6 linked regions of the Homo sapiens genome follow. The protein of the gene in region 2 purifies or fractionates together with the protein of the main gene of each other region. This does not show direct contact. Each region holds a gene or a part of one and is shown on either strand. Other genes may lie near its edges. The genes, in order: AGPAT2, TMEM120B, GDPD5, SERINC1, METTL9 and ACKR5.

What was found.
Region 1: the proteins of TMEM120B (region 2) and AGPAT2 purify together in Homo sapiens (co-immunoprecipitation; one large-scale study listed by IntAct). This does not show direct contact.
Region 3: the proteins of TMEM120B (region 2) and GDPD5 purify together in Homo sapiens (co-immunoprecipitation; one large-scale study listed by IntAct). This does not show direct contact.
Region 4: the proteins of TMEM120B (region 2) and SERINC1 purify together in Homo sapiens (affinity purification with mass spectrometry, with the first as the bait; one large-scale study listed by BioGRID). This does not show direct contact.
Region 5: the proteins of TMEM120B (region 2) and METTL9 purify together in Homo sapiens (affinity purification with mass spectrometry, with the first as the bait; one large-scale study listed by BioGRID). This does not show direct contact.
Region 6: the proteins of TMEM120B (region 2) and ACKR5 purify together in Homo sapiens (co-immunoprecipitation; one large-scale study listed by IntAct). This does not show direct contact.

Annotation. Positions count from the first base shown.
Region 1 is NC_000009.12:136,674,838-136,677,662, forward strand, and holds part of AGPAT2 (1-acyl-sn-glycerol-3-phosphate acyltransferase beta), read right to left. Parts: intron 2,720-2,825; coding exon 2,586-2,719; intron 2,300-2,585; coding exon 2,124-2,299; intron 1,844-2,123; coding exon 1,748-1,843; intron 1-1,747. UniProt on the Homo sapiens protein: Converts 1-acyl-sn-glycerol-3-phosphate (lysophosphatidic acid or LPA) into 1,2-diacyl-sn-glycerol-3-phosphate (phosphatidic acid or PA) by incorporating an acyl moiety at the sn-2 position of the glycerol backbone.
Region 2 is NC_000012.12:121,747,135-121,751,052, reverse strand, and holds part of TMEM120B (transmembrane protein 120B), read right to left. Parts: intron 2,728-3,918; coding exon 2,611-2,727; intron 674-2,610; coding exon 614-673; intron 1-613. UniProt on the Homo sapiens protein: Necessary for efficient adipogenesis. Does not show ion channel activity.
Region 3 is NC_000011.10:75,436,414-75,439,232, forward strand, and holds part of GDPD5 (glycerophosphodiester phosphodiesterase domain-containing protein 5), read right to left. Parts: intron 636-2,819; coding exon 523-635; intron 1-522. UniProt on the Homo sapiens protein: Glycerophosphodiester phosphodiesterase that promotes neurite formation and drives spinal motor neuron differentiation.
Region 4 is NC_000006.12:122,451,308-122,454,807, reverse strand, and holds part of SERINC1 (serine incorporator 1), read left to right. Parts: intron 1-577; coding exon 578-657; intron 658-900; coding exon 901-1,038; intron 1,039-2,750; coding exon 2,751-2,920; intron 2,921-3,053; coding exon 3,054-3,144; intron 3,145-3,500.
Region 5 is NC_000016.10:21,602,317-21,606,234, reverse strand, and holds part of METTL9 (protein-L-histidine N-pros-methyltransferase isoform 1 precursor), read right to left. Parts: intron 1-3,918. UniProt on the Homo sapiens protein: Protein-histidine N-methyltransferase that specifically catalyzes 1-methylhistidine (pros-methylhistidine) methylation of target proteins.
Region 6 is NC_000012.12:56,992,689-56,997,291, reverse strand, and holds the start of ACKR5 (G-protein coupled receptor 182), read right to left. Parts: upstream 2,801-4,603; 5' UTR 2,644-2,800; intron 2,099-2,643; 5' UTR 2,083-2,098; coding exon 868-2,082; 3' UTR 1-867. UniProt on the Homo sapiens protein: Orphan receptor.

The sequences.
Region 1 (2,825 bases), on a different chromosome or scaffold from region 2:
GCCCTGGGGACAGGCCAGGCACACCCCAGGCTGCATGTGGTTGGGGAGCCCTGTCCTGCGGCCCACCCACCCCTGCCTTCGCTGCTGCCATGGGTCCTTGTGGCTGTCCTGCCCCTGGGACCTGGGATATGTGTCCTGCTCTGGTTGGCCCAGAGTTCCATAAGCTCATCCTGCAAATTTTTACTCATCTCCTCTAGGAAGCCCTCCTGAGCTAGCACGTGTTTGCCTGGTTCACACCTGTCCCCATATTGGGTCTGCAGCTAGCCAGGGGGGCAGGGCCCTGTCCGGTTTAGGAGGAGATTATGGCACTCTTCCCTGCCCACGCCTCTCTCCCAGTCCTCTCCATCTCAGGAAGCCAGTGAGGGAGGCAGCCCTAGCCCGGGGGAGGGGTGGAGCCTGCTGGTGTTCCTGGAAGTCACCGGGGTCAAATCCAAGGGCACTTGGGGGTGATCATTAACCCGAGGCAGCCAGGGAACCTCCAGGGGGCCAGCAGGTAGGCTGGGGACTGGCAGCAGGAAGGGAGGGGGCCAGCAGGTAGGCTGGGGACTGGGAGCAGGGAGGGAGGGGGCCAGCAGGTAGGCTGGGGACTGGCAGCAGGAAGGGAGGAGGCCAGCAGGTAGGCTGGGGACTGGCAGCAGGGAGGGAGGAGGCCAGCAGGTAGGCTGGGGACTGGGAGCAGGGAGGGAGGGGGCCAGCAGGTAGGCTGGGGACTGGCAGCAGGGAGGGAGGGGGCCAGCAGGTAGGCTGGGGACCGGGAGCAGGGACGGAAAAGCTGTGGGTCTCCTGGCTGAAGCTGCACTGCGGCCACCCCCAGCCACCCCATCACAGCCGCCCGTCTCCCCTCTGCTCTCCCAGAGCTGATCCAGCCCTCACTCTGCCCCCAAAGGGAAGTGACATCAGCCCCAGGCTGGGCAGGTGTGCCCCGCACCTGGGCAGGGCTGGGATCAGAGCCCAAGGATGCTCACCCAGCCCAGCGCCTCCGGGGCTCCCCAGGCCTCACGGCCTTAGCTGGGAGCCTCTGGAAGGAGGGCCCCCTCCCCACCACCTTGCACAGGGCCAGGCACTGGGGGCCACTAGTGGCCAGTGTGAGGGAAGGAGCTGAGACCCCTGCCCTGAGCGAGACCCCACCCAGATGGGTAAAAGCTCCTTCTCCTGACGCAACTCTTCCCAGCACAGCGGCAGAGGCAGGACAGGTGCTGGGGGAATGGCTATACCCTGGCCTCTCCCAGACACCCTAGGATGCACTGCACCCCTGGAGGCTGGGGACCAGGAAGTCCAGAGTCTGGAGGCGCTGCTTACAATGAGCTCCACCCACCCTGAGCTCTGGTCTGGCCTGATACTACACCAAAAGCCTGGCTTGTCCAGACCCACTGCCCATGCCCTGAAGCCCACCCCAGCCAGGCACAGGCCCAGAAATGAGCCTCCTGAGAGCTCTGCAGCAGAGGCGAGCGGCCCGGCTCCCCACCCCTCTACCTGCCCAGCCTCGCAGGCCAAGCACTGGGTGCCCACCAAGGGCAGCTGGTCACTCTGGGCTCTGTGTGGGCAAAAGGCCCAAGGGGCTGCCCTCCCTGGTCGGTCAGGGGGCAAGTGCAGGAAGGGGCAAGGAGGCCCTGTCCCCAACTCAGTGGGAGGAGTCCCTTGTGTGTCAAGGGTCCTCAGCTCGGCTGGTGGTCACCTGCTGCCTTAAGCCAGCCTGACCCCGCCTCCCCAGCCTGCACCCACCCAGGGAGGGCTGGGCTCAGCCTACCTGTGCCTGGACTGCCAGGTAGAAGGCGCCCTTCTTAAAAGGCAGCAGGTCCCCATTGTCGTTGCGAGTACCCTCGGGATAGATCCACACTTTGAGCTGCAGGGAGAGGAGAGCCTGGACTGACCTCACGCCCAGGCCACCCCAGAAAGGCCACGCCGCCTCGCCTCCTAAGAAGCCCCACTTCGCAAAGCAGCTGGCATGGGACCCCATCTGCGGAGCATGGATGATGTAGGGGTCTGGCGTGGGACCCCACCTGCGGAGCATGGATGATGTGGGGGTCTTGTTTTTTCTGCCAAAACCAAGTCACAAGCTGGCCCCTGCCTGGCCCCGCCCAGGCCCCACCCCAACCCCACCGAGCCCGGCCCTGCACACTCACGTTCTCCCTGACCATGCGCTCGCCCAGGTCGGCCATCACTGTCATGGCAGTGCTAGAGCGCTGCCGGTTGATGAAGAAGACGCCCCCGAGGTACATGATGAGGCCCACGGGCCCCAGGAAGAGCAGCTCCCGCTTGGCGATCTGCACGCAGCGCTCCGGAAGGACCTCCATGAGGCCTGGGAGACAGAGAGACAGAGACAGAGAGAGAGGGGGAGACAGCGTGCGCTGGAAGACAGCTGCTGAGCACCCACAGGCCTGCCTGGCACCCTGCCTTCTCCCTGGCTACCTGGACGGGTCGTGTGGCCTCCGAGCCTCTGTGTCTGGCCCTGAGGGAGGTACTGAGGCCGAGCTCGCCCAGGCACAGGCAGCCCTGTGTCCTCGTCCCCGGGACCCAGCCCCACACAGCCCCAGCTCAGCCGGCCCCACTCAAACCCCAGAAGCCACCCCCGAGGCCCGGCCTACCCATCATGTCCAGGATGCTCTGGTGGTTGGAGACGATGACACAGGGACGGGCCTCCTGCAGCCTGCGCGGGTCCCGCACCTCGAAGCGGAGCCCGTAAAAGTACTTGAAGCTTCGCACGAACCAGCCGATGATGCTGCAGGGGAGGCCACCATGAACACGGGTCCCACAGATCCCGCAGCCGAGGCTGGGGCGCGAAGGCCTGGGGGTGGGGTGTGGAGGAGGCTGGGGAGGGGCCCTCC
Region 2 (3,918 bases):
GAGAGTGGGTGTCAGTTTGGGGTGTGGGTGTTGGGTGTGGGGTGTGAATATGGGGTGTGGGGTGTGGGGTGTGGGTGTGGGGTGTGTGGTGTGGGTGTGGGGTGTTAGTGTGGGGTGTGGGGTGAGGTGTGGGTGTGGGGTGTGGGGTGTGGGTGTGGGATGTGGGGTGTGGTGTGTGGTGTGGGTGTGGGGTGTGGGTATGGGGTGTGGAGTGTGGTGTGTGGTGTTGGTGTGGGGTGTTGTGTATGGGGTGTGGGGTGTAGGTGTGGCTGTAAGGTGTGGAGTGTGAGTGTGGAGTGTGGGGTGTGAGTATGGGGTGTGGGTGTAGGGTGTGGGTGGGGTGTTGGCATGGGGTGTGGGTTTTGAGTGTGTGGTGTGGGGTGTGGGTGTGGGTGTGGGTGTGGGTTCGCAGTGTGGGGTGTGGGTGTGGTGTTGGTGTTGGTGTTGGTGTGGGTGGGGTGTTGGTGTGGAGTGTGGGTGTGGGTTTGAGGTGTGGGGTGTTGGTGTGGGTGTGGATGTGGGGTGTGGGTTCTCAGTGTGGGGTTTGGGGTGTGGGTGTGGGTGTGGGGGCGGTGTGAGGTGTGGGTCTGGGTGGTGGGTGGGGGACACTTACTTGGCCTGGTTGCTGAGGAGGGTCACGTTCACATTGCCGAGGACCAGGTTCAAGTAGAGCCTGGAAGGAAACACCTGTGAGGGGCATGATCCTTAGCAGGTGGGTGCGAATCAACAACATTCAAACTCAACACACTTAATGAGCACATCCCAAGCACTGATGTTAGAAGATAGGGGGCCTAAGCTCAGCGGGCAAATGGGCCCCCACATCGAGTGAGAATGACAACTAACCAAAGGACATTAACCTGTGACAGGACAGTGTGAGGAGTCGATTTCTCCTCCATGCTACCCTAGAGACCGTATTTCTAAGCCTGCCTTGCAGCCAGATGTGAGCAGGTGACTAAGCATAGCCAATGAGGTGGAGGCAAAGGTACAACCTCTAGGTCAATTTTTAAAGAATTTTCTTTATTTTTCATTATTATTATTATTATCATTGTTATTATTTTTAGAGACAGGGTCTCACTCTGTTGCCCAGGCTAGAGTGCAATGGTATGATCATAGCTCACTGCAGTGTTTTTTGTTTTTTTTTTTTTTTGAGACAGAGTCTCGGTCTGTCACCCAGACTGGACTGCAGTGGCACGATCAGGACTCGCTATAACCTCCACCTCCTGGGTTCAAGCAATTCTGCTGCCTCAGCCTCCCAAGTAGCTGGGATTACAGGCACGTGCCACCAGGCCAGCTAATTTTTGTATTTTTAGTAGGTTTAGGGGTTTCACCATGTTGGCCAGGCTGGTCTTGAACTCCTAACCTTAAGTGATCCACCTGCCTCCGTCTCCCAAAGTGCTGGGATTACAGGCATGAGCCACTGTGCCCAGCGTCACTGCAGTCTTGAACCTCTAGGCTCAAGTAGTCCTCCCACCTCAGTCGCCAAAGTAGCTGGGATTATGGGTACACACCAGCACACCAATTTTGTTAAAGTTTTGTAGAGATGTGGTCTCACAATGTTGTCCAGGCTGGTCTTGAATTCCTGGGCTCAAGTGATCCTCCCACCTCGGCCTCCCGAAGTGCTGGGATGACAGGCACAAGCCACCGCGCCCGGCCTTGAGTTGGGTTTTCTATCGTTTGCAATCCAAAGATTCCCAACTGAGGTTAAGAGGCACAGAGGCCTAGGGACAGAGGGGCAGGAAGGCAGACACGCATGACACTGTAAGAGGGTCACGAATGCTAGGCTGCTGCTCATTCTGCAGAAAATGATCATCACTTAACTCATGGGGTCTATTCGAACACAGTCAAAAAGGAGAAGCTCGGAGGAATGGGTTAAAATATAACAGGGCTAGCCAGCTCCCTCCCACCCGCTACAGGCCTGAAAGGAGCCCCTCCTCCTAATGCACGGCTCTGACTCAGCGCGAGGCTGATCCGGAAAACAGGGTCAGGGTGAACTGACTGTGCTCAGCAGCGTTAAGTCAGGTCATGATGATATGAGGCTGTAAGCAGCTCTCTCTCTCCAGAACAAGGTGGCAATGACATCACTTAAGGGAGGGAACGGGGACTTCTCTGAAGGGGGAAAATACAAAGAACGTGGGCTTTGGAGTCAGAATGTCTGCTGTTCACATCCTGGTGTGGCCAAACATTCGCTGATGTCTCTGAATCTTGTAAAAATGGGCATCTCTTGGTCTGACGCACAGATTGTTGAGGATAAACCAGGTGACATCACAGGAGGTCCCGGCACAGCTCTGAGCGTGCAGGAGGCACGCAATGCATGTTTGTTCTCCTGGGAGAGGACAGTTTCCCTCTTAACCCCAGGTGTCAGCAGGCATGCAGTGAGTGCTGGTTCCTTGCAACGGACCTCCCAGGAATGCTGCTGTCACACGGTGTGGCTAAGGTCCCCTCCTGGGCTCATGGAGGAATGTGTAAGGAAGGCTCCTTATCTCTCCTGCCCTTGTTTCCCTCTTTCCCCTTCAATCTGAGCACCAGCAGGAAGGCGAGAGTTATATGGACCAGCTGTGCTAGGCCTGGGCATGGGCCTGTGCTAGGGGTGGGGAGGTTGCCAGCTCCTACCCGTTCTTCTTGGGCAGGTAGGCCTCCATGTCGAAGAAGACGTCCTGCCGCTCCTTGATGTTCGCTGCCATCTGCTGAACGAGCTCCGCCTCCTCCCGACTGGCATGGCGTTTGCACCTGCGGACAGAGATGCAGGCACAGGGGAAGGGGCGTCACTCAGAGGGAGGAGGGCTATGGACTCCCCGGGCCCCAGCCTCCCACCTTCTACCCCAGTGCCTCCTACCTTCTACCCCAGCCTCCCACCTTCTACCCCAGCCTCCCACCTTCTACCCCAGTGCCTCCCACCTTCTACCCCAGCCTCCCACCTTCTACCCCAGCCTCCCACCTTCTACCCCAGCCTCCCACCTTCTACCCCAGTGCCTCCCACCTTCTACCCCAGCCTCCCACCTTCTACCCCAGTGCCTCCCACCTTCTACCCCAGCCTCCCACCTTCTACCCCAGTGCCTCCCACCTTCTACCCCAGCCTCCCACCTTCTACCCCAGTGCCTCCCACCTTCTACCCCAGCCTCCCACCTTCTACCCCAGTGCCTCCCACCTTCTACCCCAGCCTCCCACCTTCTACCCCAGTGCCTCCCACCTTCTACCCCAGCCTCCCGCCTTCTACCCCAGCCTCCCGCCTTCTACCCCAGCCTCCCGCCTTCTACCCCAGCCTCCCGCCTTCTACCCCAGCCTCCCGCCTTCTACCCCAGCCTCCCGCCTTCTACCCCAGCCTCCCGCCTTCTACCCCAGCCTCCCGCCTTCTACCCCAGCCTCCCGCCTTCTACCCCAGCCTCCCGCCTTCTACCCCAGCCTCCCGCCTTCTACCCCAGCCTCCCGCCTTCTACCCCAGCCTCCCGCCTTCTACCCCAGCCTCCCGCCTTCTACCCCAGTGCCTCCCGCCTTCTACCCCAGCCTCCCGCCTTCTACCCCAGCCTCCCGCCTTCTACCCCAGCCTCCCGCCTTCTACCCCAGCCTCCCGCCTTCTACCCCAGCCTCCCGCCTTCTACCCCAGCCTCCCGCCTTCTACCCCAGCCTCCCGCCTTCTACCCCAGCCTCCCGCCTTCTACCCCAGCCTCCCGCCTTCTACCCCAGCCTCCCGCCTTCTACCCCAGCCTCCCGCCTTTTACCCCAGCCTCCCGCCTTCTACCCCAGTGCCTCCCGCCTTCTACCCCAGCCTCCCGCCTTCTACCCCAGCCTCCCACCTTCTACCCCAGTGCCTCTCGCAACCGCAGTTCCCCATCTCAACTCTCGGGGTTGGAGGAGTGATGCTGCCTCCCAGGTAGTCTTGTGACTTTCAGAAAGTCCTTAAACCTCTCTGCCTTATTTTCC
Region 3 (2,819 bases), on a different chromosome or scaffold from region 2:
AGTGTATCAGGCGCCCAAAGCCTTCCTCACTGCCCAGGCAGCTCTGACCACGTCCTCCCGCCCCCCGCCCGGCACTCCCATCGCAGGAACTCGACTTTCCCTGCCACTGTTTATATACGTAGCTGCTGCTTCCATCAGACTGGGAATGTTGACAGGGACTGGCAAAGAGCAAGGGTGAGGCCAACATTGTAGGATCCAAGTACGAACCAGGCAAAGGGGGATGGGCCTTCAAAACAGACTCCTCTCCCTACCCCACCCCTGCCCACCAACCATGGCACTGACACCAAGCCATGGTGGATGACAGGGTGGATGACTGTGTGTGTGGGGGTGTGTGTTTTCACACGTGTACTTATGCCTTTGTATGTCTGTGGGTATAATCCCGGTGGGTTTATGTACGTCTGTGCCCTTGTCCCTACCCATATGTGCCACATGTGAATGTGTGTGCATACACATCTGTTTGCATGTGGGGGTGCAGAAAGCTGGGCCCAGGGCCTGCCTCCACCTGTCTGCAGGGCTGTGTACCTGAGAAAATAAGCTTCTCCTTCATGATGCTGACGTCCCGGCTGGTCCGGCGCACCGCAGCACTCAGCATGATCTGCTCAGGGTTGTAGCTCCGTATGCCACCCAGGCGCCACCTGCAGAGATGGCCCCGTGGGCATCAGGTCTCTCCTCAGCCCTCCCTTGGAGCAGAGACCCTGCCTACTTCCAGAGCCTCTCTGGATGTGGCCCAAGAGACCAGCAGGACTCTTGTCCCACTGTACAATGGGGAAATAGGCCCAGAGAGGGCAGAGTTGGGGCTTGAATCAGAGCCTACTGACTCTCGGCCAGGGCTCCCTGGCCTCCCTCTTACCTCCAGAGCCGCCAGTCAGCAGCCCTGGCCCAGGACTAGGGTTGGTTAGTTCTGTCTCAGGTGTCCCCAGTAATGCACCTGGCTCTCTTTGAATGGGACAGATTTGGGAGCAGGAGGAGCTTAGTAGGCACGACTCTGTTGACCTAAGCTGGGGCACACACCAATCTCAGGGAGTCCCAGCTGATGTCTCTTATAGCTCCACCATCATGACCAGACTAAGTGAAGCCATTGGGGAGACCCCTTGAGAGGGAGGGAAGGAAAGCAGGGGGGTGGGGCCAGGTGGTAGGGGGCTTTGCCCAGAGCTGGTCTGCACAGGTTCCCAAGGCAAGGGGGTTAGAGTGACTTGGAGTGGGGCCAACTGCTGCTCTGTCCTGGCAGTCCTAATGCGGAGGGAGGTCAGAGCATGAATCCCTCTGATGGCTGAGACAGGTGCAAGGTGGGGGTAAAATTACTCAAGAGTGGGCTGGGAGGTGGAGCATGCACAGGGCATGAAGGGACCAGGCACTAAGTGGAAAGGACTCAGGTTTCTGTGCCCAGCCCAGGCCACTGTCTTCACTATTGTCATTCCTCTGAACTAGCCCCAGTCCCTGGCCTCTGAACTTAGACCTTTCCTGGGATCTAGGCAGAAGGATCACTGGACTCTCACCCCTGTCCCCACCAGGAGGAGGGGGTGATCAACTTGGGAACAAGAACCCAACTGCCTCAGGGACTGAACCCTGCTTGGGGGATGGAGAGAGCCAAGACTCCACAAGAAACCAACTGTGAGTTACTAGATGGGGTCAGCGCAGCAGAAGTGGACAGACAGATGGACAGGCGGATGGATGGATGAACAGAGCAGGCAGACAAGGGGAAAGCAGGAGGCGGGGGGTGGCACGGACACCCTGGCGAGGCTGGCTGCCCTATGAATCATTGAGGGCAGTGAGCAAATCTCTCTCTGTTCATCGCTGTGCCCCAGTACCATCAGTGCCTGCCGTGTCCCGGGAGCCTGACCTGTACTTGTTGAGTGAATGAATGGAAGAATAAGGCCCACAGGGAAAGAGTATCCTCCCCCGGCCTTGTCCCCCAGGGTACCTTCCTCCACCAGGCCTCTCCTGATCCCCAGGAGACAATGACACTGCCCTGGCTGTGTCTGAGCAGACCCAGCGTGTCTGTGCCAGCCACTGAATCACCATGGGGTGGCCTCCCCAGCACCCTGGGGCTCCATGTGAGAAGGCCCAACTCCTGCTGCAGACAGCATCAGCAACCAGTGTATGTGGATGTTGGTCAACTGGGCGGACACAGGAATGACTCAAGGAATGTCCCATAGCCAGGGACAGCATCTCCTCCTAGAAGCTGATTGGTGAAGCTGCCTGACCCAGGAGGGGCTAAGGCACTAGACGGAGGGAGACGTGGGTCCCTAAGCTCTAGGTCCCATCCTGGAAATTCATGTTGAAACCCAGAAGGACAGTGTCAGGCCAGGGTCTCTCGGCCAGGCATATCCAGAACAGGAAGCTCAGCCACTGTGGGGTCCTCTGAGGGGAATGAGGAAAAGGCTGTGTGTTGCGGGGAGCAAAGCAGGGATGGGTGTTAGAGATAGAATGTAAAGAAGAGAGAGAAAGAGATGGGAGAGGCAGAGAAAGGTAAACAGGAAGAGTGAACAGTGGGAGAGGCAGAGCCAGGGAGGGAGAAGATGGGAAGAGAGAGGCAGAAACTTGGTAGGGTCTGCCCTGGGCAAGTGGTGAAGGCCCCTGTAAGTGCCAGAGGCAGGGGGATGGGGGTACCCAGGCAGGGTCCCCTCCCCCAGGGAGACACTTTGGTGCAGAGAGGGGCCAGGTCAGGAAGCTGTCAAGGAAACGCTGGTCCCCACCTGCAGAAACGGCCGTGGGAACAGGGAGCAGAGGGACACACACGGCAGTGGGACGGGAGGAGCAGAAAAGAGGATTGCGGGGGTAAGGGAGGCTTCAGGCGAGCGCGCTGTCTGCGAGGTGGC
Region 4 (3,500 bases), on a different chromosome or scaffold from region 2:
CTTCTGCTACCCATTGTGTATTCCCTTTGCCTTCAGCAAGCAACTCAGCAGGTCGTGGTTTTTTTCCTGGTGGAGTGACCCAATGATCTCCATAAGCGCCTACTTTAACTGGGGGACCACAATGTTGTTTTGGGTCCCCTGGAATCAATGTCAGCTCAGAGCCAGTGTCCAGTAGTCCCCAAAATGTCTTATCATTTCCCTTTCTTTTCCAGCCATTTGCTCTGATGCTTCCTCTAGCGTGGTCTGGGCTTTAATCCATTCCTTTCACATGTTGACTTGCCTTTCTTATCAGATTTTTTTTGCTTTGTTTTTTCCAATTGGAAAGATCTATAATATAAGCTTGGGTTCATGGTAATGGTTAATTTCACTCTCTCTCCAAACTATGTTATCTAAATATGATGATTACCTTGTTTTGTAGTTACAAATATGGCTACACTCCAGATCATAATATCCTCAGAAAGAAGTAGAACATTCACATAAAGTGTAGCTATTTGTTAAGATGCAGTTAAATGATTTCATATATGAAATTATTTGATGAATGTCTATTAATAAAAAATTATATTTCTTTTTGTTTTAGATTTTGGTTCTTTAAATTTGCTGCAGCAATTGCAATTATTATTGGGGCATTCTTCATTCCAGAAGGAACTTTTACAACTGGTAAGAAATCCTTTTTAAGTTGTTTGACATTGATATTTTATAAAGGAATCTGAAATAATTGTCACCTGGAACTATAATTGTTTGTCTTTTTGTTTGGGGGTGTGTGTGTGTGTGTTTCCCCAGTTGGCAAAATCAAGATGTTCATATAAAATTTTATTTTCCTTTTTGTGTACTGTGATTTTGAAAGGAAATGATAAAAATCAAACTAACCAATCACTTATGTATGCTTTCTTTCCCTTTCAGTGTGGTTTTATGTAGGCATGGCAGGTGCCTTTTGTTTCATCCTCATACAACTAGTCTTACTTATTGATTTTGCACATTCATGGAATGAATCGTGGGTTGAAAAAATGGAAGAAGGGAACTCGAGATGTTGGTATGCAGGTAAGCTTTCGTCGCAGAACAACTTCAGTATAGTTGAACTTTGAAGTCGAGAATAGATATGTAGACTAGGTAAATCACTTAGGATTTTTATGGTCTACTTTCCTATGATGAGGTTTTTAATTTAAACTTTGTGAGTGTCAAAATATCACATTGTATCAGCAACTTGGTGAGCAGATCTTTTAGCAGATTAACTGGGAACATAACCCAAGAACCAGGAAAGAATCCAAAAGAACCTGAATAGCTAAAATAAATGTTCCAAAGCATATTACTGAAAGCATGTGCACTTTATAGCCTAATTTTCTAGCCTACAATGGGTTAAAAGCAAAATATTAAAGGGAAGAGGATTGCTAGGAATAGATAAACACACAGTGATACAATTCATAAACAGCAGCAAATAAAAAATATAAAAAGCAACTCGGATGTTTTATTCAAGTGCAAAGGATGCTTTTATGTGCATCAATAACAACTAAAGGAATTCCTATAGTAATGTAATTAATGATTATTTATAATGATGATGTTGAGTCCTTTGGGGTTATACTTGAAAACAGATATCCCAATTCAAATGCTTACAGGGCCAAACCAGGTAACAAAAATGAGGGAACAGGAGGACAGAGTTTAAGTGCATAAGCTTTGTGCAAATAGACTACAATGAATTGGAGAGTATGAATGCCCCATCTAAAGTGCATTACTACTGCTCAGCTCCATTTATTAGTTGCCTTGTGGGAATGTGAACTTAGTATTGCTTGATTTTTCTAATGTTTTTCAAAAGAAGTCATAAATCTGGATTTTCATGCTAAATGACTGAGTTTCAGCTAAAAAAATTTTAAATTGGAGTGCAAGCCAAATCCAGTGTGTCTGCTGGCCTAATATTCCTCTCACACAACTAATTTGTGGTGTTTTATCTCAGTGGTTCAAGTTAAAATAATTTGGTGCTCAAAGAAATAAGCTTTAGTCATTTGGAAATTTCACTTACATTGAATACCTTGTTCTCTAAATGCAAAGTCTAATGCAAGGGTTTCTGTGTCTTTTGTTCCCTGCTGTATCCCCAGGGCCTGGAATGCAGGCATTCAATAAATATTTGTTGGATGGATCCCCTGTCAGCGAGGCAAATCTACATAAATACTTGTATATTAGGCACATATTAGCATAAAGGCTAAACAACTTGTGTATGTTGAAATTTACATAGAAAAAGCATAGGTTGACTTATTAAATAATGACTTACCCTTGCATAATATGTATCTTTTAAGATTTTAGTTCATGAGGAAAAGCATCATTGTTGTGAGGGCTTAACATTAATAATGAAAATAATTTTCTTAATGCCCTTGTTTACAACTGAGTGATAATGGTTCTTTAAAAACCTTAAGTAATATTCCTCTTATAGTTATTTTTCTTTATTTTGAAAATAATGGCTAACATGTAAACATAGTTTGTAAACTCTAATATAGATATTAGTATTAAATCCTATTAGTTTCTTACTAACTTGCCATCCTTGCAAATACATAATAGCTATGTGTAAAAACTAGAATTCTTCAGCAATAAAGGTCAGAATTAATTTTCTTTCCTGCTTTTATAGCCTTTATAATGCTGACAATGTTAGTTGCTTAAAATATATTTTTTGACAAAATGACAGATTGTTTATAAAACAGGTCCCATTTCTAATTGCTAATAATTTCTGATAAAAAGCTAATTATCCAATTATATTTCTTTCACAGCCTTGTTATCAGCTACAGCTCTGAATTATCTGCTGTCTTTAGTTGCTATCGTCCTGTTCTTTGTCTACTACACTCATCCAGCCAGTTGTTCAGAAAACAAGGCGTTCATCAGTGTCAACATGCTCCTCTGCGTTGGTGCTTCTGTAATGTCTATACTGCCAAAAATCCAAGTATGCCCTTTAAAGCATTAGTTTTTATGAAGCTTATACCTTTTTAAGTTTTCAAAAATCTAGAATGATGTCAGACTATTTACCTGTGTTGCTATATATATATATATATATTTTTTTTTTTTTTTTTTTGTAGGAATCACAACCAAGATCTGGTTTGTTACAGTCTTCAGTAATTACAGTCTACACAATGTATTTGACATGGTCAGCTATGACCAATGAACCAGGTGTGTTTTATTTATATTACATGTTCCTAAAGGTTCTGCAGTTGTTGTTTTTCCAGAAATTGTCTTTTTGTGAGATTAAATTACTTAAAAATTAGGCTTCTAGAGGAATAAAGTACAAAGTTTTGATCTTTGATGTATTATTTATTTCACTTAGTTTCTTCCATCACTAACAAAATTATAAGAAGGTTACATGTATACCTAAGAGAAACTGTGAGTTCAGTTTCAGAGCACCACAATGAAACAAGCATCACAGTAAAGCATGATTTTTTGGTTTCCCAGTGCATATAAAACTTTTGTTTATCTTACACTAGTCTGTTGTGTGCCATAGCATTATGTCTAGAAAAACAATGTACATT
Region 5 (3,918 bases), on a different chromosome or scaffold from region 2:
CTCCCCAGTAGCTGGGATTACAGGCACGTGCCACCACGCCCAGCTAATTTTTTTGTATTTTTAGTAGAGACCAGGTTTCACCCTGTTAGCCGGGATGGTCTTGATCTCCTGACCTCGTGATCCACCCACCTCAGCCTCCCATAGTGCCGGGATTACAGGCGTGAGCCACCGCACCTGTGTTTTCCTAAGTTCTATGAGTCATTCTATTATAGGAAATTAGGGGGTGGGGTGGGGTAGGGTGAAGGTAGAGTTGTGGGAACTCCCAAATTTGTTCAAGGTGGACAAAAGCACTGGCAGCCTGGGAACCCAGGACTTCCAGCTGGCCTCTGAAGTGAGGGCAGTCTTGTGGGACTGAGCTCTTAACTCTGTAAAGCGTGACCCTAACTCCAGGTAGTTAATGTCAGAACAGGATTGAACAATTAAACACCCACTTGGTGATGGAAAATTAGAGAATGGCTGATGTCAGGAAAAAATGACAATACATGTAAGAATCTTTTTTCAACTTTAAGCCTTAAAAAAAGCATGCACAAACCAGATAAAGGCCAGAACTTCAAGCAGCTGTCTTATTCTCATCTAATTCACAAACTACAAAATCTTCAACAAGTATTGTGCACACAGCTACCTAACTTCAGTGTCTACACAGAGGCCTCACTAGAATGAGGGCAGTTTCCTATTCAGAAGGCAAGCCTAGGCCAGGAGCAGTGGCTCACGCCTGTAATCCCAGCACTTTGGGAGACTGAGGCAGGAGGACTGCTTGAGGCCAGGAGTTTGAGACCAGCCTGAACAACATGGCAAGACCCTGCCTCTACAAAAGATTTAGAAGCTACTCAGGAGGCCGAGGCAGGAGGATGTACTGAGGCCAGGAGTTTGAGGCTGCAGTGAGATATGATCAGGCCACTGCATTCCAACTTGGGTGACAGAGTAAGAACTTGTTTCTCAAAAAAAAAAAAAAAAAAAAAAAAAAAAAAAAAAAAAAAGAAGGCAAGCCTATTTTTACCACCCCTCAGACAACACAAGGTTTACCAGGAGGGGCATCATAAAGCAGCAGAAAATGTGTTGCCTTGAAACCAAAGCTGGGTGCAAAGCCCAACTCTATCATCCATTAACTCTGTGCTGGTGAGCAAGTCTCTTCTCTCTCTCACCCTCACTTTTCTGTATGTAAAGTGCGGATGATACCACCAACCTCCAAGAGTTCTATGTGGACTACTGGGGATAATATATTTGAAGTGCCTGGCACACAATAGAAGGCCAGTAGCTCTTCATATTTCCTTCCCCTTTCTCTCCAAGGCAAGGGCTGGTCAGAGGAGAAGTACAGTTCAAGGGAATGCCTAAAAACCAAACTGTAGGTCTAGGCATCCAGCCATTCTCAAAAGAAATGGGTAATCAAAGACCCAAGGCATTCAGGGCTACCAAAAACAATCAGAAAAGCTCCACTGCTCAGGATCTATGAACACAGAATCTTTTCTAAGTTGGCCAGACCAACTCCATCAACAGAGCTTGACAGCTAAGGATTCAAAATTCACATTCTAAGATTTTACAATGCAGTCAACTCAGTCCAGACATTTCACCATGCACACCTTGCATTTAAGCACAGCATAGGCGTAAATATTCAGACCATTCACCATTTTCCCACAAACAATATAAACTCAACCCAATAACCTCTTTATGTGAGATTTCAATGTGTACAGTGACAGGCACCCTCATATCCATGAGGGGAATCAATTAAAACAGATTAAATGGCTTCAGCTTTGATTTAATAACCAATTACTGGCAATCCTCATTGCAAATACTAAATACTCACTCCCCATAGGACAGGATAATCCTAAAATTTTAACAAAGCTTCAGAGGGTCTACACAACAGAGCTTTTTACTGGAAGCTATTAGGGTCTTCTAGGGCACCTTCAAAGAGAAACATAAAGACTCCTGGTATATCCAGCACAAGAAAGAGATTCTAGTGTTCTGTGAAACTGAAGCAAACACTTGGGGTTTCAACACAGATTATGAGGAAGCAAAGAAATCCTTTCTGAAGTCTCTTTGGTATTCAGCTGCAAAGGCCTCCAGACTCTCGAAGGCAGTTCAGAGAAGGACGCCAATCCATCAGTGTCTGTCCGGCTTAGCTGGCTGACTATCCTTGAAGCATTGTTAACTCATGCCTGACTCCAGTCTGCCTCCACAGGGTAAGTGAGGGGTAAAGGGACAGGAAACACTCTGTCCTTTAGCACAGTGTTTGGCTCTGGCTATGCTGTCCAAGTATTTTTTCATTTGGGGGAAAAAAAAGGATTTTAATTCTTTCTTGAATTCTTCATCACTTGTGGCATAGCGCAGTTCTGAGCTTATATAAGAAAGTGAAAAAATAAGTCACAAAAATATACACATACTTGCAATTTTAAGTTACAACTTAATAATTCCAGATATTGAATGTTATCTGTGCTTTTAAAAAACCTTGCAGTATGTCACCCGGAGAAATCGTTGTGGTTTGGTTCAGCGAGTTCTATAACAATTTTTTCACTCCATCAATTGAGAAGCTACTGAACCGCTATTATTACCAAGAACCTGGGGCCTAAGGGTCCTTTCAAAGTTTCAGTAGCTCCATAATAGTTGCATTAACTTTAAGCACTAGGTGCAATGCATCAAAAAGAATAGATCCTAAGTTTTTTGTTGTTGTCTTTTTAAATTCTGAGTCTGCCAACATTGCAAAGTGACAATATCTACTAGTTTCTCACTGCCTGCCTCTATTTCTTCCCAGTGAGTCAATCTACCCACCCTGCAACCTGTGATTAAGAATATGCTGTTGGAGGCTGGTTGCAGTGGCTCACTCCTGTAATTCCAGCACTTTGGGAAGCCGATGTGGGAAGATCACTTGAGGCCAGGAGTTCAAGACCAGCCTGGCCAACATGGTGAAGCCCTGTCTCTACTAAAACTACAAAAATTAACCAGGTGTGCTGGCACGTGCCTGTAATCCCAGCTATGGAGAGGCTGAGGCATGAGAACCGCTTGAACCCAGGAGGTCGAGGATGCAGTGAGCTGAGATTGTGCCACTACACTCCAGCCTGGGTGACACAGTGAGACCCTGTCTCCAAAAAAAAAAAAAAGCTGTTTGTTAAGGAAGCTGGGAATTTCTCTTGGAAAAAGTCTTTATTCTGTAAGAAGCCACGTAGTAAATGTTTTAGGCTTGCAGGCCATACAGTAGCAAATATGCTGCTATTGTAGCCAGGGAGCTCATAGACCACAGGTAAATGAATGTGGTAGTTCTCTTTCAATAAAACTTTATTTGTGGGCTGGGTGTAGTACCTCACGCCTGTAATCCCAGCACTTTGGGAGGCCCAGGAAGAAGGATCACTTGAGGTCAGGAGTTTGAGACCAGCCTAACCAACATAGTGAAACCCCATCTCTACTGAAAACTACAAAAATTATCTGGGCGTGGTGGTGTTCACCTGTAATCCCAGCTACTCGGGAGGCTGAGACATCAGAATTGCTTGAACCTGGGAGGCAGAGGTTGCAGTGAACCAAAATTGGGCCACTGCGCTCCAGCCTGGGTGACGAAGCGAGACTCCATCTCAAAAAAAAAACACTTTATTTGTAGACACTGAAATAAATTTGAATTCCATAAATGAAACTTCATGTATTACAAAATGTTATTTTGATATTTTCTTGGTAACCATTTAAAAATATAAAACTATTCTTATTTCATAGGCTGTAAAATAAGTCTGTGAGACCAGTCTGGCCTCCCAGCCACTTCCCTGCTCTAAGTGAAACCCTGCTTCTTGCTTGCCCAAAGTGAAACATAATCCCAGTTTTGAAGCTAGCACACCAAACCAAGTTACTAAAATGGCACTGCTACTACAGTTTTAGAGCAGCTTTAGCCCAAAGGAGCCTTGCCTCTCCAAACTATACTAACAAAATAGCCATTTTTAACGA
Region 6 (4,603 bases), about 65 Mb from region 2:
TTGATACTTTCCTATGATCTGGAGAGAAAGAGATGGGGGTGGGTTGGGCTTTCTGGTAGCTCTGTGTCTCCCTAGAAGTCTGGAAGTTTCCTAGATCCGAAGCTGGTAAGAGGTCAGCTATGAGGAGCTGACTCTGGGACAACTCCTCTTGCTTGTGGGGAGGGAGCAGGATGGACAACGGGGAGGGGAGGGTGTCAGCAAGGAAATGGAGCTGTGTTTCCTGGATGGCCGCGGGTGGAGATACCATCCTGCTGACCCAGCTGCAGGGTGCAGGTCTCAGACCTTGGCTTCGCCCCCACCCCTGCCATCCCCATCCGCCTTCACTTATCATGGCTGTGCATAGGATGCACAGCTAGGGAACGTCCTGCTGGGGCCGCCTGGTTCCTTGGCCTCTGGCCTCTTGTCCCCATAACCTGCATAGTGAGCTGGAAGATCAACAAGCTCACAAACGCAAAAGGAGTTTTGTGAGGTTCCTGCAGAGTTCACTGTTTCCAGCCAGAGTGATTTATGAAATGAATGTGTCTAGTTTCCTCTGCCGAGCACCTCTTTAGCCTCAGCTCCCTTCCCAATCCCAGCTGGAAGTGCAGATTTTTAAAAGATCCAGAGTCCATGGCTATCTCTTCCATTTATTTCACCTTTTTTTCTGCATTGCTCCTTAGACACAAGGACCGAGACAAATAGTACAACACTGAGGGCCTGCTCTCTATCGCTCCTGATCCTGTCTCTCTCTCCACACCTCAGTATTTTAAGATAGATTCAAAATTGACCACGAGTGCTTTGACCCTCCCCTCTACATCCCCCCAAATCTCCCACCTATACTCTCACCTGTGCCTTTTCCTTCACTGTTGGAGGAGTCTGGCCTCTACCTCAGCTGGGTGTAAGAGGCTGAGTGGGAGAGATGGGGGAAGTATTTGGAAGCAAATGGTGTGCCTGAAAGCTCAGGCTTGGCTCAGGGTGGGGGGCTGCTGCAGCAGGCTGGCTATCACCCTTGGTGATGATGATGGAATGCTGGGTGGAACAGGAGGAAGAGGAGGCGCATGTGCCCGCCTTGGTCTGGTCCTTAGGAAGGTAATGGACTACAGCATTCAGGAGCCGGCCCCGGAAGTGTGGGCTGAGAAAGTTGTAAAGGATGGGGTTGATGACACAGTGCAGCATGGAGAAGCAGTCAATGACATCATAGAAGAAGTAGAGCAGGTGGACCAGGTGGCAGTGGAGGGAGATGTGGGTCCCATGCAGTGTGAGCAGCAGCAGGGTCACATGATAGGGCAGCCAGCACATGACAAAGACGGCCACGTAGGCGCACAGCAGCAGGCAGTGGCGCCGGCTCTTGGGTTGTCCTGGCTGCCGCAGCCGGCAGGCTGTCAGCACATTGAAGACTGTGATGAGAGGGAAGGGCAGCAGGAAGCCCAGGATGGTGGTGGACAGGGCCACCGCCAGGGCCCAGGTGCTGTACGTTTCAAAAGGTGCCATGAAGAGGCACATGGGCTCAGGGCCCTCCACCAGCTGGATGTGGACCACCTCAGGCAGCGGGATGATGGCCGAGAGGACCCAGATGCCTGCACACATGGCCCGCCGCACTCGGTGCTGGTAACGCTGCCAGGAGGGGGAGGCGCTGGTGAGGGTGACATAGCGGTCGACACTGAGGCACACCAGGAAGAAGATGCTGCTATACATGTTGACAAAGTAGAAGTAGTGAGTGAAGCGGCAGGAGAAGCTGCCCCAGAGCCAGGTGTAGTCCAGCGTGACCTCCAGCATCCACACGGGCAGAGACAGGACAATGCCCAGGTCCGCGATGGCCATGTTGAGGATGTAGAGGTTCATCAGCCCTGCCCGGCCTGAGCCGCGCCAGTTGACGCATATCACCAGGAGGTTCTCCACCAGCCCAACCACAAACATGGCCAGGTAGAGGGCAAAGAGGACCACGCGCTTGGTGCTCTGGCTGAGCTCCACGTGGCACTCAGACAAAGTGTGGTTGAAGAGGTCAAGCAGCTCGGTCCAGTTGTGGATCTCTCCAAGGTCACTGGTAGGCACTGCGGTGACCCCCTCCGAGGGGCCAGGCCCCCAGCTGGGTTTCACTGACATTGGGACCAGCACACGCCTATTGGGATGAAGGGAGGGTTGGAAGGGAAAGCAGACCTCGAGAGCCTTGTGTCCTCAAGGTAGAGGCCAGAGGGAGTCGGGGGCTTTGGGGAAAGATTCTGGGGCTAAGGCAAGAAAGGGAAGTTTAGCTTTCAAACTGTGAATAAATAATACACAACTCACTTGCTAGCTCTGACCCAAGAGCAGAGATACTTTCTTAAGGGGTTTCAGCTGGAAGAGGCCAGGACTGTTGGTGTCCACCAACATTTCTCCCCACCCCCAGCCAGTTCCCCCTCAACAACCCCCTCAATCCCCCCACACCCACCATTCCTAGGTGGTCTCCAACCTCCACCTCTCTCCTGGCACTTCATTCCTCAGCCCTTTTGCACAGATCTTTATTGCTCTTTTTCTGTCTTGTTATTTGGACCGTGAGTGTGGAACACACACACACACACGCACACCACACAATCTGATTCATCCCTAGGAAAACCTGTGGATCATGCAGGATAGCCAGTTGTCTCCAAGCCCTGATTCCCATCTTCCCTGGGAGAGGGCGACACTCACCTGAGTTTCCCTTGGGAGCCCCTCGGTCCTGGAGGGAGGGCCGGCAGGTCCAGGCTATGGGGAGCTGTGAGGAGGCTGGGGGGCCCTTGGCTGTGGGGCTGGCTTCCCTGCTGGCTTCACGGCCGCCCTTCTCATCCGGGAAGTAGCTGTCACTGCTGAGGCTCTGTAGGGAGGGATGGGGTTTTTCCTGCATTCCCCCAATCCGGTTACAGGGGATGTCCCAGCAAAAGACCCGGTGTGCCAGTGGCGGGGAGGTCATACTGCCAGCATTAAAATCCCAGCTCCTCCCTCACCCGCTGAATGAATTTACCTCTTTCCTCAGCCTCAGTGCTCTCCTCTGCAAAGTGGGGTCTATTATCTACTAAAAGGGATGCTTTGAGAATTAAAGGAGCTGTTGAGGGAGGGAAAGTGCTTAGCTCAGGTGGGGCCTGTGGCAAATGCTTTACGTATGTATGTATTTTCCTCTCCCTAAGTCAGCTTGGAATCCCTCTCTCCCCTGTCTTGATTCCTACTAGAGTGAAATTGGATGTGGGGGTATAGGGGAGGGTCAAAATAAATCTGAACATCAGTTGGGCTTTTAATAACTCTGGCCCACCCCTGCCATTCTCCCCAGCCCCTCACAGGGCTGTGAGCTCCCTGCCTTCATCTTGTGATTGGAGGTGAGAATCTGGGAAAGAAAAGATTGAATGGCTGGGCATGGTGGCTCACGCCTGTAATTCCAGCATTTTGAGAGGCTGAGGCAGGAGAATCGCTTGAGCCCAGGAGGCGGAGGTTGCAGTGAGCTGAGATCAGGTCACTGCACTCCAGCCTAGGTGACAGAGTTAATAAAAAAAAATAAAAATAAGATTGAATGCGGGGTGTCAAGGGGGCTTTGTCAAAGCTTCAGGGAGATTCCTGAGTAGGGAGGGAGAGAGAGAATGGCGCCCTCCCCCTGTGGCTCTATACTTCTCTGCGTGAAGGGTGTGGTGGGTGGCTGGCAGGGGATGAGCAGGGGATGGGGCGTGGGGTAGGGAGAGCAGACTTCTCTCTCCCGCCAAGCTAGAGGGTAAGGGACTCTAAGCCACGTGTTATGGGTAAACATTTTGTGTCAGCAGAGCTTCCTGCCCTTCAGAGCGCTTTCACCTCACTTCATCTCGTTGGATTCTGGAGATACCCCTGTGGGGAGGATGGATTTCTTCACCCTCTTTGAGGCCCAGAGAAGTTGTCTGTTACACAAGCCACACTTGGCAGATGGCAGAGTGGCCTAGGCCTGAGCCAAAGGTGTGTCGGCTGGACGGGATTGAGTATATATTAAGTCGAGGTGAAATTCCCATAGCATAAAATTAACCATTTTAAAATGTGTGATTTAATGGCATTTAGACATGCACATTGTGCAAACACCACCTCTGTCTACGTGCTAAACATCTTCATTACCCGCAAAGAAAACCCCATAACCATTAAGCAGTCAATCCTATTCCCCCCACCACCAACCTTCTGCTTCCTGTCCCTGTGGATTTACCTATTCTGGATACTTAATAGAAAGGGAACCATATCATATGTGACATTCAGTGTCTGTGTTTTTTTTTTTCCACTTAGCATGTTTTCAAGGTTCATTCACTTTGGAGCATGCATCCGTACTTCATTTCCTTTCATGGCTGAGTAATATTCCCATATATATATATATATATATACACACACACACACCACATTTTCTTTATCCACTCAAAGAGAACATTTTTTAAAAGTTTGCTCACTGATTCTTTTATTATGGTAAAATATATGTAAGGTTTACCACGTTAACCATTTTTAAGTGTACAATTCAGTGGCGCTAAGTGCATTTACACTGCTGTGCAACCATCAGCACCATTTATCTCCATGGAAGGGAATATTTTTCATTTTGTAGTTTTGTAGTTTTCTTAAACCTTCCACTTACATATCAGATCACTCCAAGATCACAAAATCTATCATGGCCGGTGCAGTA